Regions from separate parts of the Homo sapiens genome. Here all the other regions are linked to region 3. Evidence: fine-mapped expression QTL. A gene starts in region 3. Each other region holds a variant in brackets. All regions are shown on one strand. Distances are from middle to middle. Region 1 overlaps NSUN2 (NOP2/Sun RNA methyltransferase 2). Region 2 overlaps SRD5A1 (steroid 5 alpha-reductase 1). Region 3 holds the start of NSUN2 (NOP2/Sun RNA methyltransferase 2).

Region 1 (8,181 bases), 33 kb after region 3:
ACCAGCCACTTGACCCTCACAGGTTATAGAGCTCTCCCAGAGTGCTGGTTTCCCCTCCTAGGGGGGGGTGGGTTCCACACCTGTCCAAGGGGAGGGGCCATAGTGAGGGCTCGACCACCATAGCCGCTAAGAGCATAGCCCCTGAGAGCAGGCTGTTGTCGTTCATGAATGACATCATGGTATCTGTTCTCTCATTCTCTTTATTCACACAGGGAATATATACATTGTATCCATTTATTAACTCAAGAATTATTACTGTATCAATGGAAGATGTTAAGATACTGTTGACCCAGGAAAATCCCTTTTTTAGAAAACTCAGCAGTGAGACCTACAGTCAAGCAAAGGACCTGGGTGAGTAGTTGGAAATGCATAGAGACATAACTTGTATTCCCTTTATAAGGCCAGCAAAAATGCAGGTGGTGTGCGTTGGGGCATATTTATCAATCATAGTTTTCAGTTTATTTATGGCTACATCAATTTCCAGAGGGTTCTGTAGATCCCTGATTGACAGTTCAGAATGCTAAGGGTCAAAGGCATCTTGGGGTTGGTGTACTTCCCCAGGCTCTGGTGGTGCCCTGCTGCTGCCCAGCAGCCTGTGGTGTGTCTGTGTGGCGTGCAGGGCTGGCCTTTGCTCACCTTGCTGGGCCAGAGAGTCCGGGGAGAGGAGGGGTCAGCCTGTGAGCAGCCCTGGCAAGCCTCCCAGCCAGAGCTCTTGACCCACTTGCCTGTCAGCAGGTCGGGGGTGGGTGGAAGCAGGTCTCTGTGCATGAGCAAATTTGTTTTTTTCTTTTTTTGTTTTGAGACAGAGTCTCGCTCTGTCACCCAGGCTGGAGTACAGTGGCACGATCTCGGCTCACTGCAAGCTCCGCCTCCCAGGTTCAGCCATTCTCCTGCCCCAGCCTCCCAAGTAGCTGGGACTACAAGCACCCGCCACCACGCCCAGCTAATTTTTTGTATTTTTAGTAGAGACGGGGTTTCACCGTGTTAGCCAGGATGGTCTCAATCTCCTGACCTTGTGATCTGCCTGTCTCAGCCTCCCAAAGTGCTGGGATTACAGGCGTGGGCCACCGCGCCCAGCCAGTAAATTTGTTTTTTAAGGTACACAGCCTCACGAGACTGGCTAACATGCAGATTTTAATCACCTGTGTTAGAGCAAAATAAGAGTCTTGCCAGCAGTTCTGACTTTTCTGCTAGCCAGCTGGAGTAGATTATTGGTCATATTGCTGCTTTTATATTTCATCAACTTCCACTTCAGATCACTCCAGTGACGTTTTCCCCTAAGCATAAAAATCATTTCTCCAAGCTGTTCTAATTTTCTTTCTGTTGTCTTCATTCTTGTTTATTTTTTTAAATAACTTGCTGTTTAATATTTTTGGCTCAATTTGATCAAAAGTACGTGAATCACTTCTTGCAGTTACGTTTCTTACTTGCGTTTAAAACTTACTCGTGTGGTTCCTTTGGGATATAAAACATGCTCTGTGGAGTCTGTCTCCCACTGCCGTCTCCAGGCAAGAACCACAATTTAAAGTAGAGATTCTTGTAAAGGATAAAGGACCTGTTTATACTGGTTTTCTTTTAATCCTGCACTTAGATGATTGCAGTATTGTTTTAGACAATTTTTATGTATTTCATGCCATTCTGGGAGTTGGTGTTATAGTTTATTTAATTTTGAATTTTGAAGAATTAACCAGCAGTTAATCCCCAGCCTCCTTGCTTCTCAGAGTGGATTGTCAGGTGACATCCCTTGAAGTCCCTGAATGGCTTTTGCCTGGGTCCTCTTCCAGATCGTCCCTACTGCGTCATTTGGACTTGGTTCATGTATCCAGACGGCCTCTTTTCACCATCTAGATCCTTGAAGCCAAGAATGTAGATTATTTGTTGTTTTCTTTCTTCAGAATACTTAACACATCACTAGGTGCAGAAATGTGCTCAGCGCATGCATCCACTACCTGGAAAACCTGGCAAATGTGTGTCTGTTTCTTTTCCAGCAAAGGGAAGCATCGTGCTGAAGTATGAACCAGATTCTGCGTAAGTCAGTACACGCCCTGCCCTTAGACACACACGCCTTGTCATTAGCTACAGTGTTCTCGTTGGTGAGGAAAGTGACTTGGGAAGGTGGGAACCTTCTTCAGGCCTTTTGTGATTGTTCCTCAGAAGTAGCCTTGTGAAAACTTCAGAACCAAAATATTCCTGTAGGTCATCATGAAGATGCTGTTTCATAGAACACTCAGCTCAGGCTAAGTGAATTTTTACTTACAGAGAATAAAATGCATAGTACTTATTTTTTAAGCATTAGAAACCAATGAAAATTTCTGTCTTGTACAGAGTAAGTGTGAAGATTGGACAGTTGAGTGAGGTTCCGTTCTTTTGTCCTCATGGCTGGTTCAGCCATGTGTGTTGCTGACATGTTACTGCATCAGGAGTGCTAGGGCCGGAGCATGGGATTTGCTCACGCTTGCACTCACGGTCCCCACGGGACCACTGCTCCACGCTGCTTGCATGTATTCACGCTGCATCCTTGTGGGGGGCCTTGGGGGAGCAGGTGCTGGTTTTGGCAGCACTTGCCAGAGGAGGAAGCCGGGACAGAAAGTTAGGTGGCTTGCCCAGAGCTCCTCAGCTCACGAGTGGCAGAATTCGGATCTCACCTGCAACAGCTCCGTCTTGGTGACATGCAACACCATTTCTGAGAGGAGGAAACAGAATGGGGTCCACGGCTGACTGGGATTTGGGGGAGTGAATAGGTAGAACCACTGTACAGATTTCTTTGGGAAGTTAGTGTTGGACCAGGGATCCAGTGCTAACTTGAAGGAACCACCAAAGCGCAGATCCTGAGGCAGGTGCAAGCTGGGGGTCGGGGCGGGCCCAGCCAAGTAGGGAAGGAGGAGGGATAGGTAAGAGGTTGGCAGGGAGGCCGAGGGGCCACATGTCCTCAGGGTTCAGGCTGTCCGGCTGCCATGTGGAGAGAGGACAGGTGGGGGCTGAGGTGGGAGGGGCAGGAACTTGGTGAGGGAACAACAGATGGATGGGCTGGAGAGGTCAGCGAGGCCGAGCGCATGAGCACCCTGGGGACCTGCTGGAGGCGGATGGTGTCTGGATGGTGAACGGGCAGGAGCATCTAGTGATTGATGGCTTCTGGGTGTTTTTAACGAGAGTTTGAACAAAGACTCAGAAATGGTTTTTAAAATAACAGTCCCATGTGGCCCACATAGAAAATATTGGGATATTTTAAGGTGTGGATTCACTTTTCCATATTTAAACACTTGTTTCTACTTGGTGAAATACACAGGTGACAGGTCAACTTCAGGAATAATGGTTTTTTTTTTTTAAGAAGATGGGAGTTGGGAATTTCTTATATTTTCCTCTCACTTCTTAAAACCACCTTTGTGCCCCTGCTTTACATTAGGAAAAATGGAAAGGTGATTAAACACGGCCGTTAGGAGCCTAAAATCTAGGTCAGAGTCCCGTATGAAAGAAATCAGATAAGTTGAGAGAGGGCGTGTGCAGGTTGGAAATGGTGGCGTCCATCTCTGCTGGGGCGTCGATGCCTCCTGGCTGGACAGGTGGAGCCTGGAAGGTAGGGAGGCTCGGAGCATGTTCAGAGAGGCAGGGATGTTTTTGACTGTGGGTAACACTGCATGCTGGGAACGGAAATGAGCACTGTGTGCCCAGCAGGGCTCAGACTGCCATGTGGGGTCCCTGGAGAAGAAATCACGCTAACACTGAGTATCAAAAGGATGAGTGGTCCTGGGTTCTGCTCTGGCAGCCCTGCTAAGGGCAGAGTCTCCCGGTGGTCCTGGGTCCTGCTCTGACGCCCTGCTAAGGGCAGAGTCTCCCAGCCTCTCAGGAGCTTCAGTCCACTTAGGAAACTTGAGGTGAGCTGCAGGGAGCCTGTGGAGAAACGCTTCTCATTTAGTGGGGTGAGGTGACACGGGGTGGCGGGGACAGTAAGTTAAGTTTGAGAAGGAAGTATGTAGAAAGTGTATGTGAAATCTGTAGATTTGGGGCCTCTACTCCATTGTGAACTTAAAGAGGCAGGGCGAAAGCGAGGGTGAGAATTTTACTCAGGACATGAAGAAGGAAGTCCTTTGAGAAAACCTACCCCTCGGATCCAGATGAAATGTCCTCCCAGTAGTTTTGGGGGTTTTGTGGGTATGGGTTTTCTGTGGTTTTCTTTTTTAAGCAGTTGCATATTACATCTCATTCGATTTAGTTATGGGAATGTTTAATGTTCTACATGAAGCCACTTTCACTTGTAGGAATCCAGACGCTCTGCAGTGTCCCATCGTCTTATGCGGATGGCGGGGAAAGGCCTCCATTCGAACTTTTGTGCCCAAGAATGAACGGCTTCATTATCTCAGGATGATGGGGCTGGAGGTATTGGGAGAAAAGAAGAAGGAAGGGGTTATCCTCACAAATGAGAGTGCAGCCAGCACCGGACAGCCAGACAATGACGTGACTGAGGGACAGAGAGCAGGAGAGCCCAACAGCCCAGATGCAGAAGAGGCCAACAGTCCAGACGTGACAGCAGGCTGTGACC[C/A]GGCGGGGGTCCATCCACCCCGGTGAGCAGGCCCAAGGCAGCGGGGGCCCACACCCCTCACACGCAAAACTGGCTTCTTCTGGTCACTGGTGTCTGAAACCAAATCCAGAGCAGCCTGTGGCCTGTAAAGCATATATTTCTAATGACTGCAGACTGGTGGGATCATAGGAGCCTTCTGAATGACCAGGACTGCTTTCTTTGGAGCTGATGAAAATGTACTCTTTTAGCGTGTTAGAAATCACTTGTTTTATTTTGTTTCTTTGGCCAAGCTGGGTCTAGTGTTTCTTTTGCTGGGAATAGACTTTCAAAAGTTGTACTTCTATCAAGAAACAAAACTGCCCTTGCAGAAATTTCAGGTCTTTTGTTAAGCCTGTATTGGTCTTAAGGTGCAGTATTTTTTAAATTATTATTTATAGAAAGAATCTATAAATTCTTGGGGAAGTGTGTTATAAGCTTTAATAATTACATTGAGCTGCACCTCAGTGGTGTGTCATTAACATGCAGTGGGGTTAATATCTGAGGCCTCAGATGACTTTGTGCCTTTTGGAATAAAGGGTAAAATAAACTCTCCCAGAGTAAGAGCTGTATCGTGAATTGTCATACTAATTATTGAGGGGGACTTATGTGCTTTTATTGAATGGAGTGCTTTACAATTTTTATTTTTAAATGGGGTTGGGATCCTTGGAATATTTCAATAAAATTGATAAAATATATACATGTGTGATTCCTGTTTTTGCTCTTAGGAAGCAGAAAGAACAAACTTACTTTTGGCTAAATGGCAGTGTTAGAATACATCCTTATTTTCTCTAGTGAAAGCGGTTTTACTGTGAAGGCTGCTGTCTTCCTGTCTACCTCATTTTGTGTGTTGGTCTGTACAAACACCGACCACACACTGCCTTTGGTGGATTTGTCTCTGGAGTCTCCACTGTGGAATACTTTCAAGCTCTGTGGCGTGAAGAGCTCCTATTTCTCTTTCGCCCACATTCTCCACTGAACATTTCTCTACATTTGCATTTGCATCCTCTGGTGTGCTTGCATGTCACTCATTGTTTTCTGAACCCTTTGACAGTAAGTTACAGACGTGTTCCGTTACCCCCTTGCTCCTGTGGTGTTTCCTGGAAACAGAGGCCCTCTTTACAGCTCGCAGCATAGGCGTCAGAAACGTGGATGCAGGTCACCCTCAAACCAGCAAGCTCGCTCCAGCGGCCCAGTAATGTCCTTTGCAGTCACAATGTCCAATTTTGTCTGGGGTGACACCAGTTGCCTTTGGCTGTCTTGTCTCGAGTTCACTACCGTCAGAAACAGTTCCCAGTCTGTCTTTTATGATTGAGACAGTCTTGCAGGGTACCGGTCAGGTAGTCTGAATGTGCTTCAGTTTTGGTTGGTCTGAAGTGTCCCTGTGATGTGTGCGTTTTTGACAGGAGGACCACAGAGGTGGTGCTGTGTTCTCGCTGCGTCATGCCAGGAGGCTGACGATGTTGGGTTTTCTCTTTATAGTGGTGGTGAAGTTTGTTTTATTATTAGTAACATGGTATCTGTCTGCCAAGTTTCTCCACTGAAAAATTTGTAAGTATTGTGCAAGGAGACATTTCAAGACTATATTCCTCTCTCTCATCAAACTTTTAACTGCCAGCTTTAGTATTTCTTGATAATTTGCCTGAGCCAGTTTTTACTGTGACAGCTACAAATTGTTTTCCCCCATTTTTCATCACTTCTACATTATTAGTTCTCATTACATAGAATAAGCACTCCTCTGTCCTTTGTTTGCTTCTTGATTCATTTTCTGTCAGTACGGATTCAAGGATTCTGTTTTATTCAGTTATTTATTTATTATTACTGTCATTTATTTTGGTTCTCAGATTGTCCCGGCATTGGCCAGTGGGAACTGTTTCCAGTCAGTTTCAGTGCTTTATCCTACTTGCTGGTCCAGGCCCTGGACTGGGGACACCGGGCACGGTGGGGACCTGGGGGCCACACAGGTGTGTGGGGATGGGTTTAGTGCTCTCAGCATCTTTCTCCTCCCTCAGCCCCCAGAACTTTTAGGGCAGTGAGATCTTGGTCTACAGAAGGGGATTGTTGAAAGATGCTTCTCTGGGGAAACTGTCTAGCTTCAAAGAAGCCGTAAAGATAGCGGCCTTAGGGTTCCTGGGAAGTAGCCCACTCTTATCACCCTGTAGCGACGCTCAAAGCGAGGAGTCACTCCCACACTCAGCACTGCCTGTGAGCACCTTGCCTTGTCAGAATAGGCAACCCCGGGTAACCAGACACAGAGCAGCCTCCAGTGTTGGATGGATGTAGGGGTCAAAGACAACAGAATAGCAGCTAGCAAGTACAGACCACACAGGGAGAAGAAAACTTAAAAATTGATAAATAAGGTGGACAGTTATTATGGTGTATGGATAAGCCTGAGGAAACATTCAAGAGAAGACTGCTCCTAACATGGAGGATTTTCTTTCTCTAACTTTAATCAGCATTTTGGTAAGGGTCTTCCGATTCCCGAAGAGTGCACGGCAGAAGAAAAGACATCAGCTGAAGGAGTTTTCGCTTCCACCCAGCAGGGTTGTCTCTGATGAGGGCCTCTCTGAAGTAGCCAGCCCCATAGGTTGGGAGTAGTGGTTGCCTTCTGGTGGGGGTGCTTAAATGGGAGAAAAACTTTTTACTGAAAACTCTTTGTTTCCTTTGAACTTTGACGTACCTGTTGAGTAGATGAATAAAATAAATTTCCTAAAAAGAAGGACAACTTTGAGCCAGCGAGTCCACTTCACAGGCCCACAGATGAGTCAAATGTGTCTGCAGAGTCATTTGATGCAATGTTGTTAATAGCAGAAACCTGGAAGCCCTCAGCATCAATGACGAGGCACTGGGACACCAATGGTGCAGAGCCCCCACGTGGACACTGGCCAGCAAAGGGGCTGAAGCAGCTCGCTGTGTCCTGGAGTCCAGTGACCACCAAGAAAGAAACGCAAGGTGTAGAGAAGAATGTGCATTCTGCTGCCATTGTGTACAGGGGGAAAATACACAGGCTTGGAGACATGTGCTTTTGAATTTATGTAAAGTAACTGGAAGGATACAGAAGAAATTGACAGTTTTGGTTGCCTCTGAGGAGGGCATCTATGTGGGCTGGCCAGTGTTAACAAGGAGATTTTAAATACAGATGCTCTTCAGCTTACGATGGGATTATGTCTTGATAAGCCCAGCATTAGTTGAAAATGTCCTACATCAAAGTGCATTAAGTACACCTAGACTACCTTCAGCATGCTCAGAACACTTCCATGCTACAGTTGGGAAAATCATCTGGCAACACAGTCCCCTGCAGAGGGTTGGTTGTTTACCCTTGTGATCGTATGGCTGTTGGAGCAACTCGGCCATTGCCCCACATCACAAGGATATCGACTACAGATCACCAGCCCAGGTAGAGATCAAAATCCAAAGTACAGTTTCTATTGAATATGTGTTGCTTTCCTACCATCATAAAGCCAAAAAATCATGCGTTGAGAATTGTAAGTCAGGGGCCCTCTCTATTAAAACATGGTAATCTTAGCTCTATTCAGTTAACAAGTGAGTAGTGAATAAGTGCTGCGAAAGAGATATCTGTATCTCTGTGAGCCCAGAGGACAAAATTATTAATGGGCATCCGCAAGTCT
Region 2 (8,157 bases), 33 kb before region 3:
TACAATGGAATACTACTCAGCCATAAAAAGGAATCAATTAGCAGTATTTGCAATGATCTGGTTGATCAATATCTTAAGAAAGGTGGTTAAGCTTTGGTTACAGCAATGGCCGATAGAGAAGATTATGGCTGTATCAGACACAAGTGAGGGTCCCTTCCCTTTTCCTTGCTTTTATTCTTGTTATTTTTTTCTACCTAACATTATTTTAGCTACTTACTTGTTTCTTACCTGTCACTCCACCTGGGCCAGGACTGTTTTTTCTACCCATCCGTCCTCAGCACCCACTGCTGTGCTTGATATACAGTAAGTGCTTGGCAAATGTTGTTGAATGCACAAATGCATGCACCGCTGGCCTTGGAGACTAAGGAGGAGATGGGTACAACTATTGTTCTCTGCCTCATTGGATTTTAGCTTTGGTCATGATAGCAGTTGGCTGTGGTCTTCCTACAGATAACAGCAGACAGGGTCTGGACGGAAGGAGAGAAATGGGCTTTTGGGTTCCAAGTTCTGTCAGTGTTGGGTGACTGAAGTCGTGCACAGAGGCCTCTCTGAGGGAGAAGCCATGGCCATGCCACCCCCTGGCTTCCCTGCAGCTTGAGGCAGGAGGTAACCAGCCATTATGGGGCAGGATCCCTATAGGCCAAAATGTGGAGACTTTATTTTTTTCCTGGGATGCCAACACCTAGTTCTCTGGTTTTCCCCACTTAGTTAATTTTTGTGTTAGGAAAGGCCACCTCCTCAGCCTACCTTCTCTTCCCCGGCAATGGGCACATGGCTCATTTCTGGGCTCTCTGTGCTCTCCCTGGAGAGTGGGGGTGCAGAGGACACTGCTTTCTGCTGCAGGCGCCATGTTTAGTTGGTCTCACTTTGAGATGCTCATTTCCCTCTGCCTTCTGTCAGCCCAGATGTGAGGACCCAGGGTCTCCGCAGGGTGTGCACTGTCATGGCCTCTCTGCTCTGCCACATCAGGCCCATCTCCACCCGTGCTGTGGTCCATCTGCAGTGGTGACTCTCTCTCACTCTCTTTATGGGGCCACTCCCCCACCTAAATTCCTTTGAGGTGATTTCAACTGGGGTCAGAATAGAGAGGGGAGAAGGAAAGGTGTATGTTCAGCTCATCAGATTTAACTGGAAGCTCTCAAGGCTACTTTAAAAATCATAAAAGCCATTCCCAATAAGCTTGTTTGTTTTAAAGGAAATCTCCTTTCCAAATCACTGTAGATAGTAAACAGAAGAAGTTGAAAAAACCAAATAAAAACAGGAAATATGATGAAAGAATGTTTCGATGTAACAATTAGTAAAAGAATTTGAGCTACCTTGTTAAATGGCAAAGTCTATTTATTATGTTGTTAAAGACAACTGAAACAAATGGCATTTAAAAACTCCAGATGAGATGATAAGGCAAAGCAATGCCAGATGAATTCATCAAGATAAAAAGCAGTATGGCAATGTTTTTATCAAAGTAGAATTCAAGTCATGAAGCATTCAACAGGAAGATTATTTTATATTGATAACAGGTACAGGCTATGAGGGGAAAGCTTTGCAAAGCAACAACAGCAAAACAGAAAGCAAAAACTATTAGAAGGAAGATTAGCTATGGAAGAAAAAGAAGGCTGTAGAGAATTTTAACAATTATTATGTTTCAATCAACAAAGAACAAACAGGATAAATCTTAAAAAGTGGTCTTGTTATTGTTACAGAAAGTGATCATTCTTTACACTACAAGGGAAAACTCAAAATCTACAAAAGAGAAATTTCACAGACAACAATCTCTACTATATCCATACGTGGGGAACAGAACAAAAAAACTAGGTCTAGACTAGAAGACAGAGAGAAACCATGTCAGACCAGAGCACATTGATGGCTCACGGTGAGTGACCCATGGCCTAAAGGTGCCTGTTTAGGGCCCAGGAGCCACTCACACAGGCAGAGCAGCTTACTCCGTATGAACCACCACCAGCACCCCTCCCTGCCCGGTGATGTCACCCGGTGGGCTGGGCTGGAACAAGTCCAGATGCCTTTGCCTCACCTTGGAAGGGCCACGAGGAGCTTCCTCCTCTATCCCCAAGTTCTCCACTTACACACAGCACCTGACACGAAGGTTGGCAAGTTTCCCCCGGGCCATGACTGCACAATGGCTACCCCCAGCCTCTGTGGCCTCCGAGAGAGGGCTCCTAGACAGATTCCAGCCCTATAGGGGGAGGGAAGCAACACTGCAGTTGACCTTGAAGAGATCACTGTAGGGGGCTATAGAAGGGATTGTGACATTTATTGTTCTGAAAATGCCATCAAAGACAGTTGTAAAGTCTAGTCTCATACACACTTGGCAAGACATAGCCAAAAGAGGTAAATTTGAAATTAGAAAAAATATCAGCAGTTATTACCCAGAGCTTGAAATTCTGACCTGTTACACAGTAGGATATTCAACCTCCATTTCAGCGTATTTAGGTACTTATTAGGTAGATTGCAAAATTACTAGAAAAAAAATTCCTAGAGGACATCTTGAAAATGATAAAGTAGCAGGAAAATTACAAAGATATAACTTATTTACAAAGTCCATAGAGAAGCGCCATTGGAAAGCTTCAAGTTGAAGATAATTTCATGAAAAACGCACTTAAAACAAAAATGGAATTATAATTTTTCTGAACTTTGGATACTCTTCAAATTTCCGGAGGTACCACCTAAGAAAAAAAAATTAAAAAAGGAAATAATTCTGTCGCTTAGACATTTAACCAATGCTAACAAAAGTGACAATATTTTTCATTACAAAAGAGTACTCAGTTTTTTAAATGTAGTAACAAAAACTTTGGCATTTCATACTTATAGTTTAATTTTGCCTATTATCATGAAGAATTAAATATATCTAATCATAAAGTGTGATTCAGAAGAAGTAGCCCATAGAATTCACCTTTCTATCTGGAAGGAAAATTACTGACATTTGATGAAAATACTGATCAGCACATTGCGGAGCTGTCTTTTCAGCCCCCGGGGAAAGCATGCAGGCTGGAGGAGGGGCAGGACCAAGTAGGTGCTTCCTGAATACCTGCTGGTGACTCCAGCAGTTTTCTCCAGCCTGCAGTTGGGAACTACTGGCCTAGCCCAGGGTGTGTAGAGTGGGCACCCAGCTGCATACCAGGAGGCTCATGAACGCTCTTAGTAAGGATTCGGTGAAATCTGGGGAAATGCAATATGGCATTGTCCACCATTCAGCCTTGTGCTCGAAACAAACATTATTTTCCGTTTTGATATAAATTGTATCAATGCAGGCGTGCTCATTTGTTTTGGGGATAATAGCCAGTTGGGAAAGGTGGCAACTAAGTGCATGGAGTAAAAATTAGAAATAATTTGACAAGATGGAGAAAGGGAGTTTCTATAAACACACACAGAAAGATTAAACAACAGACTAAAAATCATGATAGAAAGCAATTAGCTCATTGTTAATGTGGTAGAAACATATGAGGACGAGAAACTGAGAGGGAGTTGGCAAAACCCTGCTGGTCTTAGTTAAGTTTAACACCGGAATCCACAAATAGAGAATTCGAACATACTGGGCGGCCACGTTTACTTTTGTATGTTCTGTGTCCCCAAAAAGGCATGTAATAAGAACAATTCTAAGAAGTCGGTCAGGACTTCCGGATCAAGCGTCACTTCCCCTGGCATGAGGCCTCGAGACTGCAGCCTTTCCAGCTACGTGGCTCAGTGGTGGCGCATGGACCCACGAGTGCCCAACACACAACGTGGCCAAGCCTAACAGCTGGTGTCAAACCTGCGAAAGTGCATTGCAAACATGTTCGCTGGTTAGAGGCTGAAGGTGTTCACAGGCCTGCTGGGATCCAGGCCATCCAGCACTTGCAAGTGCTGAAGAGCTTCCCCATGGGCCAGCGGCACTGGCCGCCGCACAGTGACATAGCAGGTGAGCGCCTCTCTCCCAGAAACTGCCCGTGGGAAGATGGGCACCCTGGCCCGAAAAGGCAAGGGCAGAGTACATGACAGCAGGAGAGCCTGAAATGGGCAAACACGAGAGGGCAGGTGGGAGATGGGAAACACAGGACTGCCGCAGGATGCCGAGAAAA[C/T]GCGCCCCCCCACCAGGCTGGGCAGCAAGGCTGGGCTCCGTGACATCAGAAAGAACATGTGTGAGGTCAGGGTGTTCTCACACAATGAAGGGATGTTGGCTGAAGAGGTTAAGTGTATTTCACAGAAACCATTATATAGAAATAAAATATTTATTTTTAAATGATTAAATTTTTCTTACTCCTTAGAATACCTTTAAATTTTGCCCTTTAAGAGAATATTTGTTAGCAACCCAGCACAGTTGACTGTTTCTGACCTAGAAATCAATGCATTAACTATCAATGCAATCATTTATGAATTTAAATACTGATTATTATAGAAAGATTTCATTGAATACAATTTTGTTTTTAGAACGTTATAATCCAGTCAGGCGCGGTGGCTGACGCCTGTAATTCCAGTGCTTTGGGAGGCTGAGGCGGGCAAATCACGAGGTCAGGAGATCAAGACCATCCTGGCTGACACGGTGAAACCCCGTCTCTACTAAAAATACAAAAAAATTAGCCGGGCATGGTGGCGGGCACCTGTAGTCCCAGCTACTCAGGAGGCTGAGGCAGGAGAATGGCGTGAACCTGGGAGGCAGAGCTTGCAGTGAGCCGAGATCGCGCCACTGCACTCCAGCCTGGGCGACAGAGCGAGACTGTCTCAAAAAAAAAAAGAACATTATAAATGGAGTGCAAGGAATAGATCCTTGGCATGTTTTCTTTTGGAATACTTTTATTTGATGGCTTAATTAGTTGGGTTTATGAAAATATTTTTTAAAAAGGAGTTTTTATTTTATTCTCAGCTTGTAAGTCCTACATTTCTGAACATACTTCTGCAAAACTGAATTGATTAATTCTTCAGGGCTTAAAACTGGTTTCACACTGACACCAATTTAAACAGCAAATGAATGACAAAGAGCTCTTTCAACTCATGAACTCTTCTGCAAAGACTATCTTTGGGTTTTCATTAGCAAAGACTTTCATTTAGATAACTGAATTATTTATTTTCCATTTCTATATGTTTCATATTCAAATACTGAGAGGGGCTTTCCTGTTTCCTGATTTCATTTGAGAAAACATCTTTGCCACTGACTTGGTGTGCCCATGTTCAATCTTACTCTGATCCGTGTTTTTTTAAACGTCAGTGTTATCTCATTTGTTTCTTTTAATGAGAAATGAGCCATTACTCACTTCTTCACATCAAATATTAGGAATATAAAAGGATGGCATCTTCACCGGGAAGTGAGGCCCAGGCCAGGTGCAGTGCTGGGAGCAGCGGGCGCAGAGGGGAGGAAGTCAGATTGTAGAATGTATATTTAGAGAGATAACGTTGTATTTCAACCAAACCGGTGACAACAAAGTCATCTGGCGGAGGAGAAAACAGAGGGGTTCACCAATCATACTCCTGCCCTTACTTTCCCAGTCAATTTTAAATGGCTGGAAGGCTGGCGTATCAGTTCCCTGTGGCTGCTAGAACAAAGTTAACCACACACTGGGTGGCTTATAATAACGGCCACTGATTCTCTCCCAGTTCTGGATGCCAGGAGTTGGAAATCAAGGTGGCAGCAGGGCTACGCTCCCTCTGAAGGTTCAGGGAAGGTTCCAGTCCCATTTCCCCCAGCTCTGGTGGCACCACGTGTTCCTGGGTTCATGGCTGCATCGCCCCCGCCTCTGTGTCCATCTTCGCATGGCCTTCCCACTCTGTGTGATCACCTGGTGTACGTCTATCCACGTTTCCCCTTCTCATCTCAACTGATAACGTTCTCCAGTAAGGTCGCTTTCACAGGTGCCAGGGCTTAGGACTCTCATATGACCTTCTGGCAGACACAGTTCTCAGCACAGAAGGCCCATTCCTGGCCCACAGTGTTTTCTGCCATGCCTGGCATTGAGCCTCCTTCTCAAACCCTCTCTGCCTTCGGCACTCACTCAACTTTCCGCAGACCCCTCTGTTTTTCTCAGCAGCTCTGGGATTTAGGTAGGTCGTGGCTCTCTGATCTCGCTCTCTCCTCACTGTCTATGCGTGAAAATACCAGGCCACTGGCACGATGGAGTGTCTCGAAGAATGCGGGGCGCTGCTCTTAGAGCTCACATTTATGCTATCACTTCTTCAAGTATTAGACAAAGAGGCCAGCCACGTTGGCTCACGCCTCGAATCCTAGCACTTCAGGAGGCTGAGGTGTGAGGATTACTTGAGTCCAGGAGTTTAAGACCAGCTTGGGCAATATAGTGAGACCACAACTCTACAAAAAATATAAAAAATTAGCCAGGCCTGGTGGTGCATGCCTGTAATCCCAGCTACTTGGAAGGCTGAGGTGGGAAGATCACCTGAGCCTGGGAGGCAGAGGTGGCAGTGAGCTGAGATTGTGCCACTGCACTCCAGCCTGGGTGACAGAGTGAGATGCTGTCTTAAAAAAAAAATTAGACAAAGAGATACTTCAGATATGACCTTTCTTCTTCTTATCTCCAATAATCATCCTTTGCATCTGCAAACTCGTGGTGAGGCTGGGAAGTACACCTAGGTACTCTTCCCACTATACCATATCAATCTATTCTTCTTTTAGCTTTTTCTCTCTGTCCTTAGTCCCAAAAAAGATGATAAACTCCATGAAGTAGGACAGAGTTATACATTTTTGCACCTCGTAGCATCAGCAGCATTGGAGATTTCGATTAGATGTTTTGAGTGGATGAAGTGGGTGGCTCAGGGGACATAGTAAATGTGCATACCAGGCTGGCCGCTTGCTAAGCCCAGTCTCCATCATTTATTGTCAGGGACACGCGCCAATGTCAGGGCAGGTAAAGATCCCACGTTGCTCCTGAGATCTCTTCCCGTCAATGAGATGGGGCTCCTGGCTGGCCTCAGACTCTGCTCCCTGAACCTCAGTTTCCTCATCCATTGGATTAGAAAGATGTTCTCTAAATTCACTTCAGCCTTGACATCCTTCAATTTCTTTTCCTTTTTTCTTTTTTTTTTGAGACTGAGTCTCACTCTCTCAACCAGGCTGGAGTGCAGTGGTGCGATATCGGCTCACTGCAGCCTCCACCTCCCAGGTTCAAGGGATTCTCGTACCTCAGCCTCCCGAGTAGCTGGGATTACAGGCGCCCGCCACCACGCCTGACTAATTTTTGTATTTTTAGTAGAGACGGGATTTCACCATGTTGGCCAGGTGAGTCTTGAACTCCTGACCTCAAGTGATCCACCGGCCTTGGCCTCCCAAAGTGCTGGGATTACAGGCATGAGCCACCGCGCCCAGTCCCTTTGATTTCTTTATGAGTGTGTTGGTCAAATGGCTCGCAAGCCTTTTGGGGGATCAGATAAAAGCCAAGGACCCGGTCTCTGGAAAATGATGTCATTTTAGGGGGCATGCAGAGCTTCTGTAGCCCATTAAGGACCCCAGGTTCAGAGCCATGGCCTAAGCCACCACATAGCTGGAGAGCTCTTGTGTGTATGAGTTCTGCCAGTGTCGCTGGGCTCTGAGATTCACCTACCTCTTCAGGACTTCCTCAACCTGCAGCATTCGCAAGCTGGCCATTGGCTATTGCTCAGTCAGGGATCTGTTTTAATCAGTATTTCCCATTCAGAGCCCTGAATCCCCTGCTTGGTGTCTAACTTGACCACTGAATTCAGCACTGTCAATTCAGAGAGGCTAAGGACGTGGTATAGAGAACAACTGTGCTGATGTGGACCTGATTATTCCCTAGAGCTGGGTGATTCTACAGCTATTTGGTTTTGTACTTGTTTGGCCAAAGCACAGAATAAACTGGAATTCAGCGATTTAAATTAACACTTCAAAAATCTAGCCTGAAAAATGGTAATAATATAGTCAAAGAACAAATTACAAATGGTAAAAGTGTTTTAAAACTTACTCATGATGCTCTTTTGCTCTACCAGATAAAAAACAAAACGTGAAGAAAGCAAAAGCCGCGCCTTGGACAGACCAGCTGGCCAGGGCATAGCCACACCACTCCATGATTTCTCCAAAATAGTTGGCTGCAGTTACGTATTCAAATAAGCCTCCTAGAAGAAAACACAGACCAAAGTAGTGCATTTACTACAAAATGAAATACGGACTTCAGAGATGCTAGTGAATACTTACCTGGAGAACAT
Region 3 (8,158 bases):
CATCTGACTGTGCACTCTGGGCACCATTTGGCCACCAGTCCTAACAAAGGCAGTCACTGAGGACTCCCGTGGCAAGCGGCACCTCCTGCTCAGGCTCCTCGGAGTTATTTGTTAAATGAATGTGCAATGCAGAGACAATCCCCTGACTAATTCACTGCTGATAGTGGGGAAGGAAAATCCATGAGCAAAGCAGCCTGGGTTCAGGGAATACTGAACAAAGCTGCGTGGGTGGAGAGAAAGAGCATGAGGTCAGGCACAGTCTGCAAAGCCCCCCAGCGACTCCGACACAGTTCAGAGCTAATGCCCTTGACTCCGGGAGACTTTTGCTGTGTCTAGCAAAGCAGGATTTACAAACGAGGGTAGAGAAAGACCAGTGGGGAAGAGTGAAGAAGCCCAGCAAGAACCAACACAGATGATGAGGACCTGGGTTACAGCACCAGCCCAGGGAGACAAAATAGAGGGCCAGGGAACAGGGTAAATGCAGCGGGGCGTCACTGTAATCACAGAGCAGAGGGCAAAGGTGATAGGAGTAGGCACAGGCTTCGGAAGGCCCTAGGGAGGCCTGCCAGGAGGCTGGGGAAGGCACCTGCCTCCAGGGGCTGCCACCATGCCAGACGCCACTCCATGCTCTACATGACTAGGGCCCCAGTGAGACGCTGCCGCCCCTGCACCCAAGAACCCAAGCGCCCTGGGATCAGAAGGAGGCTTCAGCACAGATAGGAGGCAGGCAATCCTTGTCGCTACCGTGAGCCCTAAAGATGTTCCTGAAAATGTCCTTTGCCCTCCTGGGGGAACTGGTCAGGACCACAGCTCGTCCTGCGTCATGGCTATCCCCCCACCCCAGCCCTGTCCCCTTCCAGGCAGCCTGTCCTTCCCTCCCTGGTGTTTGTGTCCAAAAGACCCCATAGATTCTCCATAACCTGTCTTTTACTCCTCAACTCAAAGGGAATGTCTTGTCACTATATCCCCAGCACAACGCCAGGTCCAGAAATCCTCACTGGCACGTAAGTCTTCCTTAAGTGTTTGCTGAATAAATACATGAAAGCGCACCATTCCCTCTATCCCTTCCTTCACCTTTCCTCCCTCCTTGACCTGACTGTCCTGTACTCATTGTTCCCAGAACAGTCAGTTGCTCTGGGAAGAGCTGTAGCTCTGCTGCTGCCTTCAGGCCTCATGGACTGTGGAAAGTCCCTGGACCTGGCTCTGGTCCTTGCCACTCCCAAAAGAGGCTCTAGTTCCCCAAGGCAGGGCCCAACCTCACTCCAGCGAAACCTCACAGGTCAGCACAGGGCCTGTGTGCACACCTGTCAGGTTGTGTAAGGTGGTACTGGCTCTGCCTGGCCAGCGCCTCCTCAGGCTCACTTTTCTCCTGCCTTTCATAAGAGTCATCCTTGTACCCACAGCCTCCTCTCACCGGGTGTGGTGTTCTCCGTTCTCTGCAGGGCCCTGTGCAAATAAAGGGCTCCAGGACGCTTCCAGGGGCTGCTGGGATGGTTTGTGTTCAGTGCTAAATGCTGTTTCCACTCTGGTTCTCTTCCAAGTGCTCATGACTTAGATCAAGTGACTGTTTAATAAATTAGTTGCTTGGGTAGAATGGAAAATGTTTATCTTTTCTATTTGGAAAATGTAAATGTCCCCAAACCACATAGACTATGTACACAATAACATGTACAACTCAAAAAAAAAATAGCCTAGCAATTTAAAAAAAAAACTATACCTGACCCAGCCAATCCTCTTGGAGCAGCTTTTAAACTATTAGTATAGGAAGTGGGCTTTCATCCCAGCAGCTCCTTATCCAACAGCCTCAGGGAAGACAGCAGCATGCTGTGCCTCCGTGTTCTACTCTGTATGAATGAGCTGTTCAAGTTCTATCATTCAAGGTGACTCTGGCCCTTTGGGAGGCTGCATTCATTTTTCTGCTTGAGTGAATGTAGGTACAATGAAACATGATGTCTCAAGTTAAAAAGCTTCCACTTGGGATGTCAGGCAAAACTTTGTCAAGTGTTCCCTTGATTTCCAACACCACAGTTTTGCTGGCACATGAGGCTGGCAGCAGTGCACATGAATGACACACAGAGTACATGTCTGGATGTGCATTCACAGCAATGCAAAATAGTGCTAGGTATTGTGTACTGAGCACGCAGATGCGCCAGCACCATGCAAGCATTTTAGGGAGTTGCCTTTGCTCTAAATTCATGTGATCCCACAGGGGGGTTCCATCACCATGCCCATTCTACAGGTGGGGAAACCTTGCTGCGGGGCAGCTTAGTAACTCATCCAGGGTCATGACTGATGGGACTAGGATAGCACCGAATACTCTGACCTGAGATTGCTTTTAGCCATAAAGAAACAGACATACAGCTTCTGGTATATTTATGGAAAAGTATATACAAACAGCAAAGTCTGACTAATATTCAAATTGTAGCAATGGTTGATCCCATTCCAAAAAAAAAATAAAGCAATGGTAAAGAGTTTCAGGCACACAGTACTCACTAAGCCTCTGATGAATGTTGACTTGCCCTTGTTTAAAGTGCAAGTCATCAAAGCACACTGAGGACACAGACTGCACCAGTTACAGGGTAAGGTGCTGGTTTTCAGGGAACTCAGGTACCAAAAACTGTGCTGGGTACAACACTGGTTCCAAGTAGTGGAGCTGTGTACTTTCTCTTCGCTGGAATGCATGACACCAGGAGAAAGAAGAGAGGCTTATAAACACACACTGAGTTCTTCCTGTCTCTCTGGGAAGTGAGTGTTTTAAGGTGGGACCCCAAATCAGAAAGGTTGGGTAAACTGCCCATAGTCACACAGCCAGTGAGTTCAACTTCCTTGGGTGTAGAGACATCCTTTTTAACTGTGAAGCTTTCCAGAGCCTGAATGAAAACGTTTAAAATTTAATTTTGAACTTTCGACCTGTCGTTTGCTTTGGCTGTGTAAAAGCCAAAAGATACGACCTGGAGAGAACCCCAACTTATTAGAAGGCTTGAAGATTTCAGACACAGCCAGTTTTCAAATATTCAAAAAAACAAAAACCTTGAAAGATTTAGAAGTCATCTTTAAGACTTCGTTTGTTTAAGGTTTAAGGTTGCTGGCTTTCCACCCCCACAATCCTGGGGTCCCTTGCATAAGGTGGACATGAAAGTCTCTGAAAGTGATCAAGCCTATAAGGAGAAACTGCTAGGCAGTTTTAGGACAGCAGGTTTCCAGTTGCAGCTGATCACTTGGCTGGGAGAAAACAGCTCCACCATCACCAAAGATACCAAAAGGGGAACCGGCAGAAAGGAGTAGAAACCAGTGGCCCTCAAGACCGACCATCAGCATTAGACTCTAGGCCAACCCCCTCCCCCCCGCCCCCACAGTCGTGATCTAAGGGAACAAAATCTAGTCTTCATTTTTATTTTACATTTTTACTTTTTAACTCTTTATTTTTATATATTTAATTTTGAGACAGAGTCTCGCTCTGTCACCCAGGCTGGAGGGCAGTGGCGAGATCTCGGCTCACTGTAACCTCCGCCTCTCGGGTTCAAGCGATTCTTCCATCTCAGACTCCCGAGTAACTGGGATCACAGACAGGCGCCACCGCGCCCGGCTAAGGAAACCAAACCTAGGACCACTGAGTGGCTCTTTCCAGATCAGTTTCATCATGTTTTTTTCCATCACTCCCTTCCAGTCCTTTGTTTCCCGCCCTTTCCAGACGAATCCCTTCTGGTTTCCAAACTCCCGGGGCCGGGGGACTCGGGGAAGGGCACCCGTGCAGATGGGGGACGCCCCGGGGGATCTGGCAGGGAGAGGGCATCTGGGTGGGGGAGGCTTCGGGGAGAGGGCACCGGGCAGTGAGGGGAGGGTCGGAGAGGACGCCGGGCCGGGAGTAGGGTAGGGGGCCGGGGGCCGGGGACGTTACCGATGCCCGTAGTGGACGAGGAACATGGCCAGGAGGATGCAGTTGGGCGCGCTGCGGAGACGCGGGGCGGACTCGCTGGCGTACTGGTAGAGCGGCAGGGCCAGCGAGGGCAGCTCCTGCACCACCCAGGCGGCCCGCGCCGGCACTCGGAGCCTGTGGCTGGGCAGCGCGTGGCGGCCGTACACTGAGTTCGTCTGACGATTGCGCGCGAAGACCGCGCAGCCCACGGCGCACTGCAGGTAGGCGAGCGCGGCCAGCAGGCGCTCCTCCGCCACCCCCGTCGCCGTTGCCATCGCCAGGGCTGGGCAGCGTGCTCCATGCCCCAGAGGCCGCGGCGGGCAACATATAGGGCGGCGGCGCGGGGGCAGGAGGGGCGGCTACCGGAGGGGCGGCTACCGGAGTCCCGCACTGCCGGGACTCTGCAGAAAGGGTTCTCAAGTCAGGCTTCTCCGGGGTAGCCGGGGCTGTGGGTGCGGCCCCGGGGGCGGGGCGAGCACTTGCGCGGGGAGGGACCTGCAAGCGCCCCACCCACGCCGGGGCCGCAGTAACCCCGCGCCGCTCTGCGCACGCGCGGCTTCAGGCTGTCCGCGGAGCTCCTTGAGCCCGCGTGGGAAACCTGGGCGCTTCGCGCGGAGACGCCTTTGTGGCTGCTTCCTGGAGCATTTTTTTCCCCTTAGAGCTGTTCGCTGTTTTCCCTGTCACGCCGCTTTTCTGAAAGACGGGTTGTGCGCTTTGGGCTTATTCCTGGACGGTCCCCAAAGGTCCCCGAAAGGACCAGGCCCGGACACGTGGGGCCTTGGTTTCCGGCCGGAAGTCCCGGGAGGTGTAGGGCTAGAGTTCTGGCCGTGGCGGGCCGGTTTCTGCGTGCTGCGTGCGCGGCCGCGTGGGCTATGGGGCGGCGGTCGCGGGGTCGGCGGCTCCAGCAACAGCAGCGGCCGGAGGACGCGGAGGATGGCGCCGAGGGTGGTGGAAAGCGCGGCGAGGCGGTAGGAGCCGGGACCCGGCGGGCGGGCCAGGGGCTCCTCCTGGGCTTCCCGGACCCCGAGGCCTGCGAGGCGGCGGCGAGGGGGCGGCTCCTTGGGCCTCGGGGTAGACGTCTCTTTCCTTCCTCAGGGCTGGGAAGGAGGCTACCCCGAGATCGTCAAGGAGAACAAGCTGTTCGAGCACTACTACCAGGAGCTCAAGATCGTGCCCGAGGGCGAGTGGGGCCAGTTCATGGACGCTCTCAGGGAGCCGCTCCCGGCCACTTTAAGAATTACTGGTTACAAAAGGTAGGGAGGCAGTGCCTGATTTTTTGGGAGTTGGGGCCAGGATGCTGGAGGTTAAAGGCGACGGTGTTTTCTTCGACAAGTGTTACAGTGCCAGAGAACCGTGGCGTTTCAGCGGTTTGGATTCAGGAAGCATTGAGGTGGGGAGCACAGGGTCCAATGAAATGGTCACGGAGGTATTGCAGGCGCAAGGTTAGAAGACGAAATGAAAATGAGATCTGAGGAAGATTCGGCTCCTGGGGAATCTTCCAGGAGGGAAGCTGAGGGTCTTACCTTTTGGAACGTAAGAGAATTTATAGAGAATGCATAAAACCCCTTGGTTCTCCCCTCCTCCGCGCCCCCCCTCCATCTTTGTAGTTACATCTTTCTAAATGAGTCGCAAGTAAAACTTAACGGTAGGATATGCTTAGGAGAGAAGGAATGCAGTGTTGCTCTTAGGGCTCAAACAGTGTGGATTGCTTAAATTTTGAAGGCATACAGTGTAAAAGTAGTGACTAAAGAATGTTTACTCTCCATGCAAAAGTTGGTTTTAGTTTTAAAACACTTGCAGTCTTAAATTTAAGAAGATACAATGTATTAACTTAGTTTTTTAGATCAGTTTGAAACTTCCTTATTTTTCAATAGCCACGCAAAAGAGATTCTCCATTGCTTAAAGAACAAATATTTTAAGGAATTGGAGGACCTGGAGGTGGACGGTCAGAAAGTTGAAGTTCCACAGCCACTGAGTTGGTAGGTACCACAGTGCTTCATGCCGAATATTTATTTGGGATATTAATCTCTATCACTTGAATTATATTTCTTGGTACTGCATTTGCTGTTAAAGAGCTTGGGTATACTTTGCAAACATCCTAATGTTCTAGTACCTGGTGCTTTTATCAACATTATATTGCTACGCAAGTTTTCATGCGATTTGCGATTTGCAGCTTTATGAGTCACTGATTTCAGCCAGCTCTTCCTAGTACATCCAGCCTCTTCCTTTATGTCACCACTTCCGCCAGCTCCCTTTTACAGCCCTTGTTTTCTCACATCAAAACTGTTGCAGAGTGGCTGCTTTGCCTTCAGAAAAAGGACAGACTTAGCTTGACAACAGTCTCCTGGTAGGTAGTCTCTTAGTGTTTTCCATTACAGACAGGTTACCACTGTCTGCTGTCAGGTTGTCTCCTGGTACTTCGCAGTACAGACTGCACCAGCCAATGTAGCATTTCCGAGTCTCAGCACCCAAGCGTGCTACTACTCTGGGAGCTACCTCTTTCTTGACCTGTCCTGGAGGTGCCTTCTGGGTTACCTATTCCTCATGGCTCGGTTCTAGTCTCAGTTGTATGAAGGTGATCCCTTGTGCTGATAGCATCTTGTAAAGATGCTTGGAGAACTCCGGAGGCGCCAGTCCTTCAGTTAACTTACATAAGTGGGAAAGTCGTTATTATTAACTTTGAGGTATTGAGTTCTCAGAAAAGTAATGCACGAAAAGGTGAATTAAGCCGTTTTTTGTTTGTCTGTTTGTTTGTTTGGAGACGGAGTCTCACTCTGTCGCCCAGGCTGGAGAGCAGTGGCACCATCTTGGCTCACTGCAAGCTCCACCTCCCTGGTTCACGCCATTCTCTTGTCTCAGCCTCCCGAGTAGCTGGGACTACAGGTGCCCGCCACCACGCCCGGCCAATTTTTTTGTATTTTTAGTGGAGACGGGTTTTTACCTTGCTAGCCAGGATGGTCTCATCTCCTGACCTCATGATCCGCCCACCTCGGCCTCCCAAAGTGCTGGGATTACAGGCGTGAGCCACTGCGCCCTGCCAAATTAAGCGTTTTGCATCAACTTTTGAGGTTTTGACTATTCCAGTACGTAGTGTTATCTTTCCTTTTTGGATAACCTTTAGTGTTCGCAAATCAAGGTCAGATTTTCATTAATCATGGGGTACAGATTTGCTTGTTTTTCTTTCATTGGCTATTTGGATTTTCATTGTCCCTATCACAGATAAGCATATACATTCACAATGAATGCTGACTGGCCAAACATTAAGTCAGTATTCAACCAGTATCAAGACCGAATATCACCATCATGGAATGTGTTGCTGGGATATAGGAATAAATATGACCAACATCGTGAAACCCTATCTCTACTAAAAATACAAAAATTAGACAGGCATGGTGGCACACGCCTGTAATCCCAGACACTAGGGAGGCTGAGGCATGAGAATCGCTTGAACCCAGGAGGTGGAGGTTGCAGTAAGCCAAGATCATGCCACTGCACTCCAGCCTGGGCCACAGAGCGAGACCATGTCTCAAAAAGGGAAAAAAGAATAGATATGCCACATCTTAGATTTTTAAAAGCTTGAAGGGTACAGTATAGGAAAATGATACGGGTGCTACGTTGCTGTTAGTGGTCACTAATTGTCCACTGTAGTGAGATCAGTGGAAAAGGTAGATGTTTTTCAGCCTCTAGTTATGGCATTGCTGAGATGAGGTAACCTTCACGAGATCAAGCTTTTCTTCCTCCTGGTAACTAGGTTGTAGACTTTGCTCAAGTCGTTTGGTTTGAAGATTTGATTGACGACACTGATTGTGTTGTACTTGAAGTAGAGGTCTGATACTGTAGTAGTCCATTTTCACACTGTTATAAGGACATACCTGAGTAATGTATAGATAAAGGAAATAGGCTTAATTGACTCACATTTCCACATCGCCGGGGAGGCCTCAGGAAGCTTAAAATCATGGCGGAAGATCTCTCTGCACAGGGTGGCAGGAGAGAGAATGAGTGCTGAGCAAAGGAAGAAGCCCCTAATAAACCATCAGATCTCCCCCTGAGAACGAACTCACTGTTGTGAGAACAACATGAGGGAAACGGCCCGGGGATTTAATTATCTCCACCTCGTCCTGCCCTTGACACGTGGGGAATATTACAATTCAAGGTGAAATTGGGGTGGGAACACAGAGCCAAACCATCTAAAATATTTTAAGAAGACAGGATTACGATTCTCCTCGGGCATGTTTGTATTTT

Evidence for each region. PIP is the estimated chance that this variant, and not a neighbour inherited with it, causes the effect.
Region 1: its variant is the best candidate, but not a certain one, in a credible set for the expression of NSUN2 in putamen (GTEx, PIP 0.75).
Region 2: its variant is the best candidate, but not a certain one, in a credible set for the expression of NSUN2 in whole blood (INTERVAL, PIP 0.59).

The regions. Positions count from the first base shown.
Region 1 is chr5:6,596,308-6,604,488 of GRCh38, reverse strand. NSUN2 (NOP2/Sun RNA methyltransferase 2) reads left to right here. Exons shown (of 19, transcript NM_017755.6): 17 at 213-351; 18 at 1,989-2,028; 19 at 4,257-5,250. The coding sequence ends at 4,563. Among named protein-coding and RNA genes, the nearest start is that of LINC01018, 18 kb to the right of the region's middle. The variant C/A (reference allele first, on the strand shown) is at 4,538.
Region 2 is chr5:6,662,726-6,670,882 of GRCh38, reverse strand. It overlaps SRD5A1 (steroid 5 alpha-reductase 1), which reads right to left. Exons shown (of 5, transcript NM_001047.4): 4 at 7,917-8,067; 5 at 1-2,681. The coding sequence ends at 2,615. Among named protein-coding and RNA genes, the nearest start is that of SRD5A1, 33 kb to the right of the region's middle. The variant C/T (reference allele first, on the strand shown) is at 4,074.
Region 3 is chr5:6,629,610-6,637,767 of GRCh38, reverse strand. NSUN2 (NOP2/Sun RNA methyltransferase 2) reads left to right here and starts at 4,724. Exons shown (of 19, transcript NM_017755.6): 1 at 4,724-4,884; 2 at 5,012-5,169; 3 at 5,791-5,895. The coding sequence starts at 4,789. SRD5A1 (steroid 5 alpha-reductase 1) reads right to left here and starts at 4,328. Exons shown (of 5, transcript NM_001047.4): 1 at 3,899-4,328. The coding sequence starts at 4,191. RefSeq lists enhancers at 3,605-4,116, 4,117-4,628 and a silencer at 4,092-4,481.